4 linked regions of the Homo sapiens genome follow. The protein of the gene in region 1 interacts with the protein of each later gene in a biochemical or structural test. Each region holds a gene or a part of one and is shown on either strand. Other genes may lie near its edges.

The links. The genes of interacting proteins can lie anywhere in the genome.
Region 2: the proteins of KIDINS220 (region 1) and PTPN3 interact in a test that uses a peptide from one of them, tested with the Homo sapiens proteins (one large-scale study listed by IntAct).
Region 3: the proteins of KIDINS220 (region 1) and CRKL form a complex in vitro, tested with the Homo sapiens proteins (one study listed by BioGRID).
Region 4: the proteins of KIDINS220 (region 1) and LIMK2 interact in a test that uses a peptide from one of them, tested with the Homo sapiens proteins (one large-scale study listed by IntAct).

What each region holds. Positions count from the first base shown.
Region 1 is NC_000002.12:8,729,614-8,733,113, forward strand, and holds part of KIDINS220 (kinase D-interacting substrate of 220 kDa), read right to left. Parts: intron 2,370-3,500; coding exon 1,107-2,369; 3' UTR 1-1,106. UniProt on the Homo sapiens protein: Promotes a prolonged MAP-kinase signaling by neurotrophins through activation of a Rap1-dependent mechanism. Provides a docking site for the CRKL-C3G complex, resulting in Rap1-dependent sustained ERK activation.
Region 2 is NC_000009.12:109,491,808-109,495,307, forward strand, and holds part of PTPN3 (tyrosine-protein phosphatase non-receptor type 3), read right to left. Parts: intron 1-3,500.
Region 3 is NC_000022.11:20,923,907-20,927,406, reverse strand, and holds part of CRKL (crk-like protein), read right to left. Parts: intron 1-3,500. UniProt on the Homo sapiens protein: May mediate the transduction of intracellular signals.
Region 4 is NC_000022.11:31,257,298-31,260,797, forward strand, and holds part of LIMK2 (LIM domain kinase 2), read left to right. Parts: intron 1-993; coding exon 994-1,129; intron 1,130-1,823; coding exon 1,824-1,933; intron 1,934-2,591; coding exon 2,592-2,780; intron 2,781-3,500. UniProt on the Homo sapiens protein: Serine/threonine-protein kinase that plays an essential role in the regulation of actin filament dynamics. Acts downstream of several Rho family GTPase signal transduction pathways.

The DNA.
Region 1 (3,500 bases):
GTTACATGTTTCCAAATTTTTTTTTAAAAAGTATTTCCTTTCTTATGATCCTTCCCCAGAACTAACATGCTGACTTAGGAACAGATGAAGTAGATAAAGTCTATCCTAGTATAGAGAGCAATGATTTAGTTTTACCTAATTAAATATTTCCTTGTCATTTATCAATTGTCACTGACCTTTTTGATGTAATTATTTCCTCATTCACTCATCTATAAATATTTATTAGTACCTATTATTACCCATGTCTCCCTGATTTTCCAGAAAAAGAATTCATGTTTTTTTTTCTTCTCATTGCTAAGCTCACTTAGAAAAGTTGGGCACCATTTAAAAGAGTTGGAGAACAGACCAGGGTGGCTTCTTGGGCACAGCTGGATGGTGCTGGAAGCCAGGCCTGGGATTTGGAGAGAAGAGTTTCCGACATATAAACCCACGGAGGTCACCAGCCCTCCCCGCATCTACTCTCCTAACAGCTCAGGACAGCCCCGTCACACTACTGCCAGCCCTGGTGACTCACTTTGTTGGCAATTTTTAAAGCCCTCTTCATTATGTACTTCCTACTCTTCAGAACCTCTGTGATAAGCAATACCCCTGCCATACAGAACGCTGGATCTCGGTTTACTCAGCCTCTCCCTGTAGCGTCACAGGCTGTGCACTCACCTAGGTGAGCCCCTAAGAGCAGGGTTTGCTTCTGCTTCACCTAACGCCACGTCTTCCCTCAAATGTGTGGTCACCAAATGTTTGCAAAAAGGGTCTCTAGCTTTTTTTCTTTTTGGCACATTAAGCCCTTTAAAATACTTCTGACCTATCTTTATACTCAGATCTCACCTCGTCTCAAAAAGTTTTATGGGGTAATGCGCCAATGAAAGGTACAGTAGTATTAGTGAGTTCTGAAGCTTCTAATTACAAAGACCACAGAGGCTGGCTGGTGAGCCATGCTTCTCATGCTCCCTTCTGTCACACTGCAGATGTCTCTTTTACCTCGGCCTCATCATCGGTTAGTTATCTGTCAGCAAAATGTAGAAAGGTGATGGGCGTGGATGGAGTCAAAATCCAGGACAATTCTGTCATAAAGGTACAGTAACACTCTTCTCCTTTGCTTGTTTTTCTCAAAGAATGCTTTCTCTTTCTTCTCCAAAGCCTGTGCTCTCAGAAGAGGCTGCTGCATGGAGCTCCGGAGGATCTTTGGAGAGCCTTGTGTAACTTGAACGTTGGCTTCGCTTATGTGTCATGCTTTTTAGATTCTCATTCTGAATAGTGGTTGGGTTGGGACTGGAACTAGGCCTCAAAATGACTTGAGAAGTCTCCCTAATTCCCTCCATCTCATCGAAATTTTGATTGGCTCTGTTGGCTGGAGCACTATTGTTGTTCAGAGTCACGGTGCTGGGAGTTCGGTTCAGGTTGTAGGCTTTCTGGCATGCAGGCCAGTTTTCTTCAGGGCTGCTGGCTATCAAGCTGCATTCGGAAGGGCTTTTCTTGTCTTCTGAACAAATGGACATCCGAGCTATAATTGGATCTTGCAGGCCACTCAGGCTATGTGGGATTCCCCGCTTTCCGCTGTGACTGTCATCTTCCAGCTCTATGAGATTTGCCTTTTCAAGCTGGGAGTCATCCGCCACTTCATTGTGCAGAGAGTGATTGGGAGAACTTTCACTGGATCTCACTCCTGAATCCGATGAATCCTTTTTGTCAAGGAGCGCATCCGATAAATACTCTTTGGCTTTAATGAAGGTTCTGATCGGCTCAGCACTGTGTTCTGGAGACTTCGGCACTCTCTCTACTTTCCCTTCGGCTTTTCTGTCTTTGTCATCTTTGAGCAGTGGAGTGTTATCTGATTCTTCTGTGCCAGATTCATCCTCGTCACTTGGGAGTTTTTGATAGCGCAGCCCACTTCCCTTAAGCTTCAAATCTGTCTGGAAGAGGCTTGACCTTTCGGAAGATTTCTTGCCTGGGAGAAGCTTACTGCCTGACTGATCTGATTTTTCATCTTCTTCAGTGATAGGATCCAGGGGGGAAGCATCGTTGGTGGAAACCCCTGATGATGAATAATCGATAACATCTCCCCTCTTCATTAGAAAGGACTTCCTCCCATCATCGGGCTTTGGTTCACTATCCTTCCCCTTTTCTTGCTCTAGGTTTGAATGAATAGAGCCCCCTGATGAACTCTGACCCATGTAATATGTGCTATGTGGAGAAGATCTGCCACTAATGGTTGTAGACCCGGGGCCCCCTTCTAACTGGGACATCTGAGCAATGTATTCTCTATAGGCATCTCTATACTCGGCCTGCACCTTATCAGTAAGCTTTGAAATTTCAATACTGGAATCCTGGGAATTGAGACTCGAAAGACTTGGGGTTCTGCGAGTTTGTGACTGTGAAGACAGAAAAAAAATAATTTAAAAATTCAAATAAGAAGAAAAAAGGCATAAACATCAGCTTAGGAAATATATATGTACACTAACCATTTAAAAAGTCATCAAAACATCAAATTCTTTTAAAAGAATTCTACATAACACAGATTAACAAAAGCTGTGACCTTATAATGCTGTTACTAGAAAGCTTTCTATAAATTTTAATAAAATCAGTTTATTGTTAATATTTAAAAGTATGATTAAACACTGTATTAACAAATAATCTTAGCACTTGTTTCTGGTTTTTATTTCATTTTTAAGAGACAGGATCTTGCTGTGTTGCCCAGGCTAGATTCAAACTACTGGACTCAAGCAATCCTCCCGCCTCAGCCTCCTGAGCAGCTGGGACTATGGGCATGTCCCACATGCTCGGCCACAGCACTTGTTTTTATAACTTCAAACGTTTAGCTTTTATTTAAGGCCAAAGTCAACTTCATTGATAAAATATAAAATGCAATGAGGCCAATAGTTGGGCCTTAGTAAACAGAAAAATAAAGTAGTTTTACAAGTTTATTTCCAATATTAAGTTTTAGAATTAGAATTTGCTTCAGATCCCAGAATAGCTAAGAAACAAGGAGCAAAAAGTACAGATGAGGAAAAAGAAGGAGAAGAATCAAGAAAGTTTAAGAAGGGTCAAGAGCAAAGGCTAAAACAAAAAAGAAGGAGCAAAGTGAATTTGTTGGGGACCTTCTCAAGGAAATAGGACATTTTCTTCCTTCCCCAAGGCGCTGCTCCTCCTCACCGCTGCCCTGCCCTGCCCACTCAGTGTTACTCGCTGCCGCCCGCTGTGCCTCCTCCCCCGTTGTTCTCCACACCCTGCTCTGCTTTTCCTCCTGCGCTCTCCTCACTCCCGCTACTCCTCCTGCATCTCTCACTTTGCTCTGTCCCTGCCCCTACCCCTACCCCTCACCTGGCCTCCTTCTTCTAAGAATCTCCAAAGGAAGAACGCGCCTACATCTAATGCCAGACCAGAAGAAACCAATATCCGTGAAGGGTGTGCAGGCGTCCTGGAAAACCAAAGGATGGTGCTCAAAGGGACACTATGTGGCCAGTGTTCCAATGAAGATGTACTTCAACCAACAGTTACTGAAT
Region 2 (3,500 bases), on another chromosome or scaffold:
CTGCAGCAGGAAGGAGCACGGTGAGGTGAGGGCTCAAAGAGCATGAACATAGGGCCTGCAGGAGATGCTGAGAGATCAGCTTTGTCTTCATTTTGAGAAAAATAGGAGTGTATGGAAGACTCCCCCGTCTGTGGAGTAGAGAATCCACTGGAAGCAGGAGAGGGCATGTGCAGATCATGGCAGTGCTGACAGTGGACCAGCTGCTTTCAGAGAAGCATCATGCATAATTTTTCTTGTGTTCCCTGACACTTTATTTTCTACAAGAACCATGAATGCATTTGATAACCAGAGCAGGGGAGGGGACTCGGGGGAGCCAGTGGGGAAGACTGAGCTCAGAGGCCAACCTCCCCTCCCCAGGCCCAATGGTGGCTGGCGGTCAAAAAACAGCTGATGGAGCTGGTTGCTGCCTCCCTCACCGAGAACCTCTGGGCTAGCCCTTGAGCTGATGTGGCTGAGGGAGGTGACATGCATGGGCCAGGTCTCCAACCCCACTCCTACGCCAGGGGACCCTCATCAGCACAGCATTCAGGCAGCCATGGCCCCTGCACAGTCCTGGATGCTCCCTCTTGGAATATCCCTTCAGTCCTGAGAACCGGGACCTGTGGTCCTGGCTGAGGAGGGACCTTCACTCACCCACAGCGACTCTCAGCACTGAACACAGATCAAAGCACTTGTCTGGAGGGTCAGGGGTCTGACCACAAAGTGAGGGACCCCTTTTCTATGCCAAGTTTTGCCTTAGTTTTCCACATTAGCTCATTGACAACAGTCAACTTAAAGGGAATAGGTGCAATTATGATCCTCATTTTACAGGGTGGAAGTTGATTATACAATTTGGGTCATTATTGTAATGCCCAACTAAATCAGAGTTGAGAGGCCAGGGGAAAAATACTCAGGGCACATAACATTGCTCCAAAAATGTAATTCTCTGCAAGCGTGGCTGCTAAAACTGCCTGTTATAACCTAAAACCAGTTTTATTTAATAACTACTGAAACAAATTGCTGTGACCCTAAGACTAGTTTTATCTGCTACCATCATGCAACAATCAGAGCTTGCCAGCTCCCGAAGAGCTTCTCTAGTGCCGATGGACTTTTTTCAAAACAATACATAATATTTCTCATTCTAATAAAACTCCCAACATTCTCTTTGTTTTCCAAACCAAAGACCACCTAGTCTGTATAGATTTCCCAAATTATTATTCTTACTTCCCAAGCAAAATGTTTTAAATTTAGAGAAACATCTGTTTTTATATTTTATTTGACTTTGACAACAGATGATTTGTCTAGGCACAGACTTGGGTTCAAATGTTGGCTGCAGCCAGGCACAGTGGTTCACGCCTGTGATTCCAGCACTTTGAGAGGCTGAGGCAGGAAGATCAGTTGAGCCGAGGAATTCAAGACCAGCCTGGCAACATGGCGAGACCCTTTCTCTATATTTAAAAAACAAACAAACAAACAAAAACCAAAAAGACAAATCTCGGCTGCACTGCTTACAAACACTGTGCTCTTTGGTGGTTACTTCATCTCTCTGAGCCTCAGTTTTCTCACCCCCTCTGTAAAATGGGGCTGGAAGGAATCAGTCAGATTTTGAGGCTAAAATGCACTGTTTGTTCCCTATGGGGGCTCAGTAAAAAAAATTCACTTCACTCTACACTGCTTAAACATTTACTAAAAGCTTGTGTATCCTAACAGTAAATCATGGGACCTCAATTTTCCAGGACTATTCCAATTTCAAATCCTCTGTCCTAACTTTCCATATAAACCATCAAAATGTTTCAAAAATTCCACTCTCTCAGTATCCAAACACTTCTCAGGCCTCCTCTTGCACAAAGCAGTGGCACACACATTCTTTTTTCACACTACAGATCCCGTTCTTTGGTTCAGAAAACGCAGTCAGCACAGTCCTGCCGGTCCCCTAAAGGAAATGGGGTCAGTGCTCCACTGCAATTCAGACTGGGCTGTTTCCCGGCACATCTATGTAAAGGCAGCCAGGGGGAGGCCGGGCCACAATCAGAGCATCACCCACAGAGGGACATACACTGGGCAGAGGAGTTCAGCCCCCACCTACTTGTACCTGGGAGGCAGCCTGGCGACAGGGTTGCTGTGAAGATTAAATGAATTAAGTTACTATTTGGAGAGCACTCACAACAGTGTGTGGCAACCAATAAGTACAGATTAGTGCTGATAACTAAAACCAGAGGCATCCCTGCAGAAGTTACTCCTGCCTCAAAGACAACACAGTGGCATTGCTCCCATCCAGGTGAAAACAAGGAGAATAGGCACTTAGCCCTGGGCTAGGTGAGGCCTGGCCCATGTACAGAGATAAAGCAGACCCGAACCAGAGCAGGTGGGTTCTGCATTAGTGAACACCAAGAGGCTGGATTTGGCTGGGTGCGGTGGCTCACGCCTATATCTCCACACTTTGGGAGGCCAAGGCAGGAGGACTGTTTGAGCCCAGGAGTTCGAGACCAGCTTGGGCAACATAGTAAGACTTTGTCTCCACAAAAAATAAAAAATTAGCTGGGTGTGGTGGCACATGCCTGTAGTCCCAGGTGCGAGGTACAAGGAGGACTGCTTGAGCCATGATCGGGCCACTGCACTCCAGCCTGATGACAGAGTGAGACCTTGTCTCAAAAAACAAAAAAGACCAGGTTGGACTTGGAGAAGAATCACCACGCCTATGATCCACAAAGTCTCTTCATGCCTTTGCCCCTGCTGTTTTGCCTGCCCTAAATGCCATCTTGTTCCTAAGTTTGAGGCTTAATTCAAATTATGCCTTGAAGTTAGAACTAACTTCTCCCCATGGTTAGAACTACGCTCCACAGTGTCTCCTGATGCCCATCGGAATGAATGGCTGCATCCTCTGGTGTCTCTTGCACCTAGCTTATCCTTTTAAAGTACTTACAGGACCATGGACAGATGGATGGGGACGCACATACACATATACAAACTGTCTTTCCAAATCCACCATGAATCCTTCCAAGGCAGGGGTTCAGCGTTCACCTCTGTAGCCCTATGGCCTAATACATGGTAGAGACTCAATAAATGTCTCAATTTGCTGTTAAATCTGTGCTCACACCTGGTCTTGGAATAACAAGTTAACCTGGGGGCAGTGGGAAGCTTCAGGTGCACACACAAGCAGAAGCTCTGGAGATGCAACATTTCTGGGTCTTAGAACCCATTACCAAATCAGTTTTCAGCCAGGGGCTTACCAAGCACTTCTCAGGTCCTTCTCGGCCAGAGGAAAGAAGACATCTATAAGATCAGGCTCTGAGGTCACCTGGACCCAGCCAAGAGCAGTGTGGACACTGACCTGGTCTCCTCCTGTCTCTATTAGAGTTGGAATGAAGAGCTGATGCTGGGTAGGCTACTGCACCCCCACCAGCCCTTCCAGACCAGGGTATGTGCTGGGTGCCTTCAGCATTCCAGCTTCTACAACAGATCTTGGGAAAAGATAAAGAGGCATTGTCCCTGCTTTCCAGGACCGCAATGCTGGAAGGTGA
Region 3 (3,500 bases), on another chromosome or scaffold:
CAGCCTGGTCCAATATGGTGAAACCCCATCTCTACTAAAAATACAAAAATTAGCCGGGCATGGTGGTGGGCGCCTGTAATCGCAGCTACTCAGGAGACTGAGGCAGGAGAATCACTTGAACCCGGGAGGTGGAGACTGCAGTGAACCGAGATCATGCCACTGCACTTCAGCCTGGGCGACAGAGCGACACTGTCTCAAAAAAAAAAAAAAAAAATTCAATTCCAAGATGAGCTAAGTACTTCTCTAGTGAAACTGCTTTAACCACCATTCTTTTTTTTTTTTTTTTTTTTTTTTTGAGACGGAGTCTTGCTCTGTCACCCAAGCTGGAGTGCAGTGGTGCGATCTTGGCTCACTGCAATCTCTGCCTCCCAGGTTCAAGCCATTCTCCTGCCTCAGCCTCCCGAGTAGCTGGGACTATAGGCGCACGCCACCATGCCTGGCTAATTTTTTATATTTTAGTAGAGACAGGGTTTCACTGTGTTGGCCAGGCTGGTCTCGAACGCATGAGCTCAGGCAATCCACCTGCCTCCGCCTCCCAAGGTGCTAGGATTACAGGCGTGAGCCACCATGTCCAGCCAGTAACCACCATTCTTTATCACTGACCAGCATTTAATGCCCAGGTCCCCTCCCTTCTGTCCCTGGGCTTTCAGGCCATCACTAATGGCTCCTCCTCCTATGCTTGTGGCTGCCTCTCCTTCCGCAGCTTCTCTTTCTCTACTTATTCCTGTTCTGCCTCCTCATTCTGGGTGATCCCATCTAAGCTGCGATTCCCAAATCTATATGTATTCAGCCCTTACCTCTCTTCTCAATAACAAACCCATCAGATTGCTAAATACCACCTGGCTTCCAGCAGGTACCTCAAAGAAAGATTCTTCCTGTTGAAAAGAATCACGCACCCACCCTAATCCCTTTCTCTTGTCTCAAAGGCACCACTCAATCCTCTCTGAAGTCATCATACCTCTCCCCTCACCTTCTATGTGCCACTTTACATTCCTATGGCATTTGATCTTGGCTCAGCTTCTCAGGGTCCCTCTCCAGTAACAGAGAATTAGTCCTTCAGATCTTTCCCCACCCAGAGCAGTTTCTCAAAAGTAAAACTCATCAGTTCTCCTTTTAAAATCTGACAGTTCTCTTTTTAAAAACTTTAGATGGCTCCCATTGTTAAGCTCATTTACAAGGCTGAGGAGGCCCTTTACAAGTTGGCTTTATCTTTCCTTCCTAGGTTCCTGCCCATCATCTACATTAATTATAACTGTGTCTTTACCAGCAAGCACTGCCACCATCTCTTCTACCACCACCTCTTCTACCTCGTATACTTGTTCTCATCCTTAAAGAATCAGTTGAAGAGCATCTCCTCTTTCAAGCCTCTCCCCACCTCTTAGGTACAGTTGATTGCCTTTGCTTTTAAGCTGTCATGGCATTCTAATTTTTTCAATAGACCAAAGCTTCTCAAAGACAAAAATCAAAAACAAAAACATGGTTTACTTCCATTAGATTCCAAGAGTCTAGCAGTGAGCTTTGGTATATTGTAGGCCTCTATATATCAAAGAACTTCCCTTTCCTATTTCCCTCCTTTTTTGTTTCTGAAAGCACAAAAGCTCAGGTATTCAAATTACCTAACTCTGGTTTAATACTGTCACAAAACTGGTGTGACAGAATTCGAATACCGTTGAGTGTGCACCTTCAAAGCCTCTTCTCATCCTCTTCCACTGTTCTTGTCACGTTCATTCCAGGTGAGTTGCTATGTGCCTGGTGGCCCCACCCAACTTGTTATGATTTTAGCTCAGATTCAACTCAAGTTAATCTGAACTCCCAACTAATAGGCTGTGCCCCCTTTTACTTATCTGAAAGAATTAAAATAATGTTTTTTGTTTGTTTGTTTTTTGTTTTCCGAGACGAAGTCTCGCTCTGTTGACCAGACTGGAGTGCAGTGGCGCTGGCGCAATCTCGGCTCACTGTCATCTCTGCCTCCCAGGTTCAGTCTCGAACTCCCGACCTGCCAGACCTCCCAAAGTGCTGGGATTACAGTCGTGAGCCACCACGCCCGGCCCAGAATTAAAATATTTTAATCTTAAAGACCCTCAGAAATCTAGTCTAATCATTCAGATCAAAAGGAAAAATTTAGGTCACAATTCTGTGGATTTGAGTTTTAAAAGTCACAAATCGAATGGCTACTAGTACTTTCCATGGGAACACAACTCTTTTTTTTTTTTTTTTTTTGAGACGGAGTCTCGCTCTGTTGGCAGGCTGGAGTGCAGTGGTGTGATCTTGGCTCAGTGCAACCTCTGCCTCCCAGGTTCAAGCGATTCTCCTGTCTCAACCTCCGGAGTAGCTGGGACTACAGATGCATGCCACCACGCCCAGCTAGTTTTTGTATTTTTAGTAGAGACGGGGTTTCACTATGTTGGCCAGGATGGTCTTGATCTCCTGACCTCATGATCCGCCCGCCTAAGCCTCCCACAGTGCTGGGATTACAGGCGTGAGCCACCACATCCGGCTGGGAACACAACTCTTAATTGGACAAGATTCCATTCTCAGCATGACAGTGTTCTTGTTTTTTGTTTTTTTGGAGAGAGTCTCACTCTGTCGCCCAGGATGGAGTCCAGCTGCACGACCTCGACTCACTTTAACTTCCACCCCCCAGGTTCAAGTGATTCTCCTGCCTTTAGCCTCTTAGGCACACGCCGCCATGCCCAGCTAATTTTTTGTATTTTAGTAGAGACAGGGTTTCACCGTGTTGCCCAGGCTGGTCTCAAACTCCTGCACTCAGGCAATCCACCCACCTTGGCCTCCCAAAGTGCTGGGATTACAGGCGTGAGCCACTGCACCTGGCCATGTTCTTGTATTTTTCTCTGAATCAAATTCACATGATTTTAACTACTGGTCAGGAGAAACGCAAAGGGGTTTATTCACAGAGTTGAATTCTATGCTGATTAAAATTACTGGCAATCCTTTCCCCATTCCAAATTATGGAAGTCTAGATTTGAGTTCTTAAATAATTAGAACAGGGGATGTAAAGAGGAGGCACAACCATGCTTCTTGTTTCCTCCTGTCCCTTCAGGGATTGGCTTCTACTTCACAGGTGTGTGAGGCTCCTCTTCTGGGCTCTCAGGTTAGACTAAGCACCCTTTCTCAGTTCTCCCACAGCTGTTTCACCATGCATGGAGATTAAATATATTAAATATATACAACTTACATTCATTCATTCATTCATTTTTTGAGACAAGGTCTGGCTCTGTTGCCCAGGCTGAAGTGCAGTGGCATGATCATAGCTCACTGTAGCCTCGACCTCCCATGCTCAAGCAATCTTTCCACTTCAGCCTCCCAAGTAGCTGGGACTTAAAGGCGCATGACACCATGCTCAGCTAATTTTTTAATTTTTTGTGGGAATGGGGTCTCACTATCTTGCCAGGGCTGGTCTCAAACTCCTGGGATCTAGCGATCCTCCTGCCTTAACCTCCCGAAGTGCTGGGATTACAGGCACGAGCCACCGAGCACAG
Region 4 (3,500 bases), on another chromosome or scaffold:
ATGTAGTTCAAAGAACACCTACATACCTTTCACATAGATTCATGATTTGTTAATGTTATGCCACTTTGTATATATCTCTCTCCCTCTATCTGTATACTTTTATTTATTTATTTTTGCTGAACTATTTCAGAGTAACTTAAAGGCATCTTGATTTTACCCTTGAACAGTTCAATATGTTTCTGCTAAGAATTCTCCTATATAAGTCAGATATCATTACATCTAAGAAAATTCACGGCAATTTTACAATATAATATTATAGTCCAAATCCATATTTCCTCAGTTGTTCCAAAAAATGTTCATGGCTGTTTCCTTTTTTAATCTAAATTTGAATCCAAGTTTGAGGCATTGTATTTGGTTGCTGTGTCTCTAGGGTTTTTAAAATCTGTGCCTTTTCTTCTCCCCATGACTTTTTAGAAGAGTCAAGACCGGTTATTCTTATAGAATAACCCACATTCTAGATTTGCCTGATTAGTTTTTTTATACTTAACGTATTTTTGGCAAGAACATTACATTGGTAACGCTGTTGGTGATGGGTCAGTTTTGAAGAGTGGAGATGATTAAACTGCTTTTGTTCATTGAAGTATCTGTCAAGACCAGAGATCCTTAACTGGTGCCATAAATAGGTTTCAGAGAATCCTTTATATATACACCCTGTCCCCCACCTAAATTATATACACATCTTCTTTATATATTCATTTTTCTAGGGGAGGCTTCTTGGCTTTTATCAAATTCTCAGAGGGCCCCAAGACCCAAAGAGGTTATGAAACACTAGTCTGTCCACTGAGGCAGGCAACACAGAGCTGGTTTCTGGGGCCTTGTTCAGTCTGAACCAGCTTCCCTTGGGGAGATAGCACAAGGCTGTAACTTTGCCCCATCTTGGCTTTGGATCAAAGAGGACTGTCCATTTTGTTGTCATACCTAGGAACCAGGGACAGCTTATGTGGCCTGGTTCCAGGGATCCAGGAGAATTTCAGTTCTTGTCTTGCCTTTCAGGTGTTCAGAATGCCAGGATTCCCTCACCAACTGGTACTATGAGAAGGATGGGAAGCTCTACTGCCCCAAGGACTACTGGGGGAAGTTTGGGGAGTTCTGTCATGGGTGCTCCCTGCTGATGACAGGGCCTTTTATGGTGAGTGAATCCCTTCATATCTGCCCCTCTTGGTCTTCAGAGTCCATTGACAGTGCTTCCAGTTCCCTGTGGCCTGTTAATCTTTTAGTCTTTCCATCAGCCAGGGCATCTCCCTTTATTTATTCATTCATTCAACTAGCAGGTATCAATTGAGCACCTACTAAGTGAAAGGTAAGATCCTTCCCTCAAAGACTTAATAGTTGAACGTTGGGAGTGGGAGGAGAGGCAGGCAGAGAGGAGACACAATATAGTTGGATAAGGACCTCCAAGGAGAGTGTTACAGGCTGAGAGGAGGATATACTTAGGTTGTCTTTAGGGAATCAGAAAAGGAGACTCTGGAATAGGCTGGCAGAGAGAGGGGCTACCTCCTATACCTGCTCTGGACAAACGACTTTAAGCATAGTGACAGACTTGCCAACCCTGTATTGGAAGAACTGATCTTTTTTAGTGGGGATGATTACTTCTGGGGATTTCTTCTCATAACTGAGACCAAAACAGTTTTGTGCAGTCTCAGAAATGACAGGAGGTACCAATCTGACACTTCCTTTGGAAGCTCTAGGGCAGAGAGTGAAAGAGTGGATTTTGACGGGGGCCTTGCTTGGAGGTCATTCACCCACCCCTGTCCTCACTCCAGCAACAGTGATAACTCACTTCCTTCCTCCCTTTGTACACCCTTCTCCCCACCTGCTCACAGGTGGCTGGGGAGTTCAAGTACCACCCAGAGTGCTTTGCCTGTATGAGCTGCAAGGTGATCATTGAGGATGGGGATGCATATGCACTGGTGCAGCATGCCACCCTCTACTGGTAAGATAGTGGTCCTTTGTCTATCCTCTCCCATATAAGAGTGGCTGGCGGGGAGGGACAGTGGCAGGGTGAGTTGGGCAGAAGGAGTGTTAGGGTAGTCAGAGCATTGGATTCTTACCACAGCAGTGCTCTTAACCAGCTCTTTAACTTGTAAGCAGAATGATTTACACATGTCTCTACCCTTTTTCCTTACCAACCTTGAAAATGTCTTCACTCTGCCCTGCAATCCTCCCAGTGGGAGGCACTCTTCAAGGACGATCCCAGAACATTAAAGTCAAAGACCCCTTAGAGCTCACCCTGTCCAACCACCTTGGTTGATAAAAGAAGTCAGCCTGGGGCCCATGGAATAGAATAGTACAAGGGCAAGGTTCTCATTGTGAGTCAAAGGTAGAGTGAAGAGAACCCAGACCATCTCACCCCAACCCAGGCCAGTGTTTTTCCAAATATACCACTTGCTGCAGATCTAGCTCAGCACCCCCAGTCCCAGCCCACCCTGAGAACCCAGGCTCCTCATTCTGAGCAGCCAGCTAGAATCATGACAAAGAGGGTGGTAGTGAGACTATGGGTACTGTTGCTTAAAGCCACATGGTGCAGTGGTTGCTGGGGGGCTTCTGTGTGGGACTCTAGCATCTTATTCCCCCCTGTGCCCTCTCCCCAGTGGGAAGTGCCACAATGAGGTGGTGCTGGCACCCATGTTTGAGAGACTCTCCACAGAGTCTGTTCAGGAGCAGCTGCCCTACTCTGTCACGCTCATCTCCATGCCGGCCACCACTGAAGGCAGGCGGGGCTTCTCCGTGTCCGTGGAGAGTGCCTGCTCCAACTACGCCACCACTGTGCAAGTGAAAGAGTAAGTATTTTGAGAACCCTTCAGCAGGGGTTCTTGAGCAGAGTCTGTAAATGGGCCTCAGAGGGCTTAGACCTCCAAAGTCTCATGCAGAACTCCCTTTATTCTCATCTCATATCTTTCTCCTGGACCCCACTATGCTGTAACCGTACCTGGGCCTTGGCACTTACTGTTCTCTCTGCCCAGGCTACTTCCTACCCGATACTTAAGGCAAGAATCACTCACCTTTCAGGTGTCAGGTTTCAGGTCATGTTTGCTCTTTGAAATCATCTGGCTTGATTATGTGTATTAGTTGTTTATCTTCTATCCCCTCCACTAGAATGTAAATTCCAGAAGAAACTTGCTGTCTTATTCAGTGCTGCATGCCCAGGGCTTGGAAGAGTACCTGGCATATAGTAGGAGTTGATTGATTATTATTTTGTCAGTCGAGAGAATGAATGGAGAAAATGTGGTCCATGGCCCAAAAGAAGTTAAGACCCTATCCTAGATTCAGGCCAGAGACCAGATGGAGAAAGAGTCTGTGTCTATCTAATACCAGTAATGTCGTACCTCTGGCCGCTTACCATGTAAATATTGATTGTGTATCTACCATGTGTTGGACACTAGGCTAGTGCTTGCACAGCAGGTGAAAGATACTAGAGTTTGGGAAGTCAGGAGGAGCTAAGGTCTGTTCTACAACCTTATTAGATGAAGAGGAGAGGGAATTGTGTTCAGGGCAGAGGG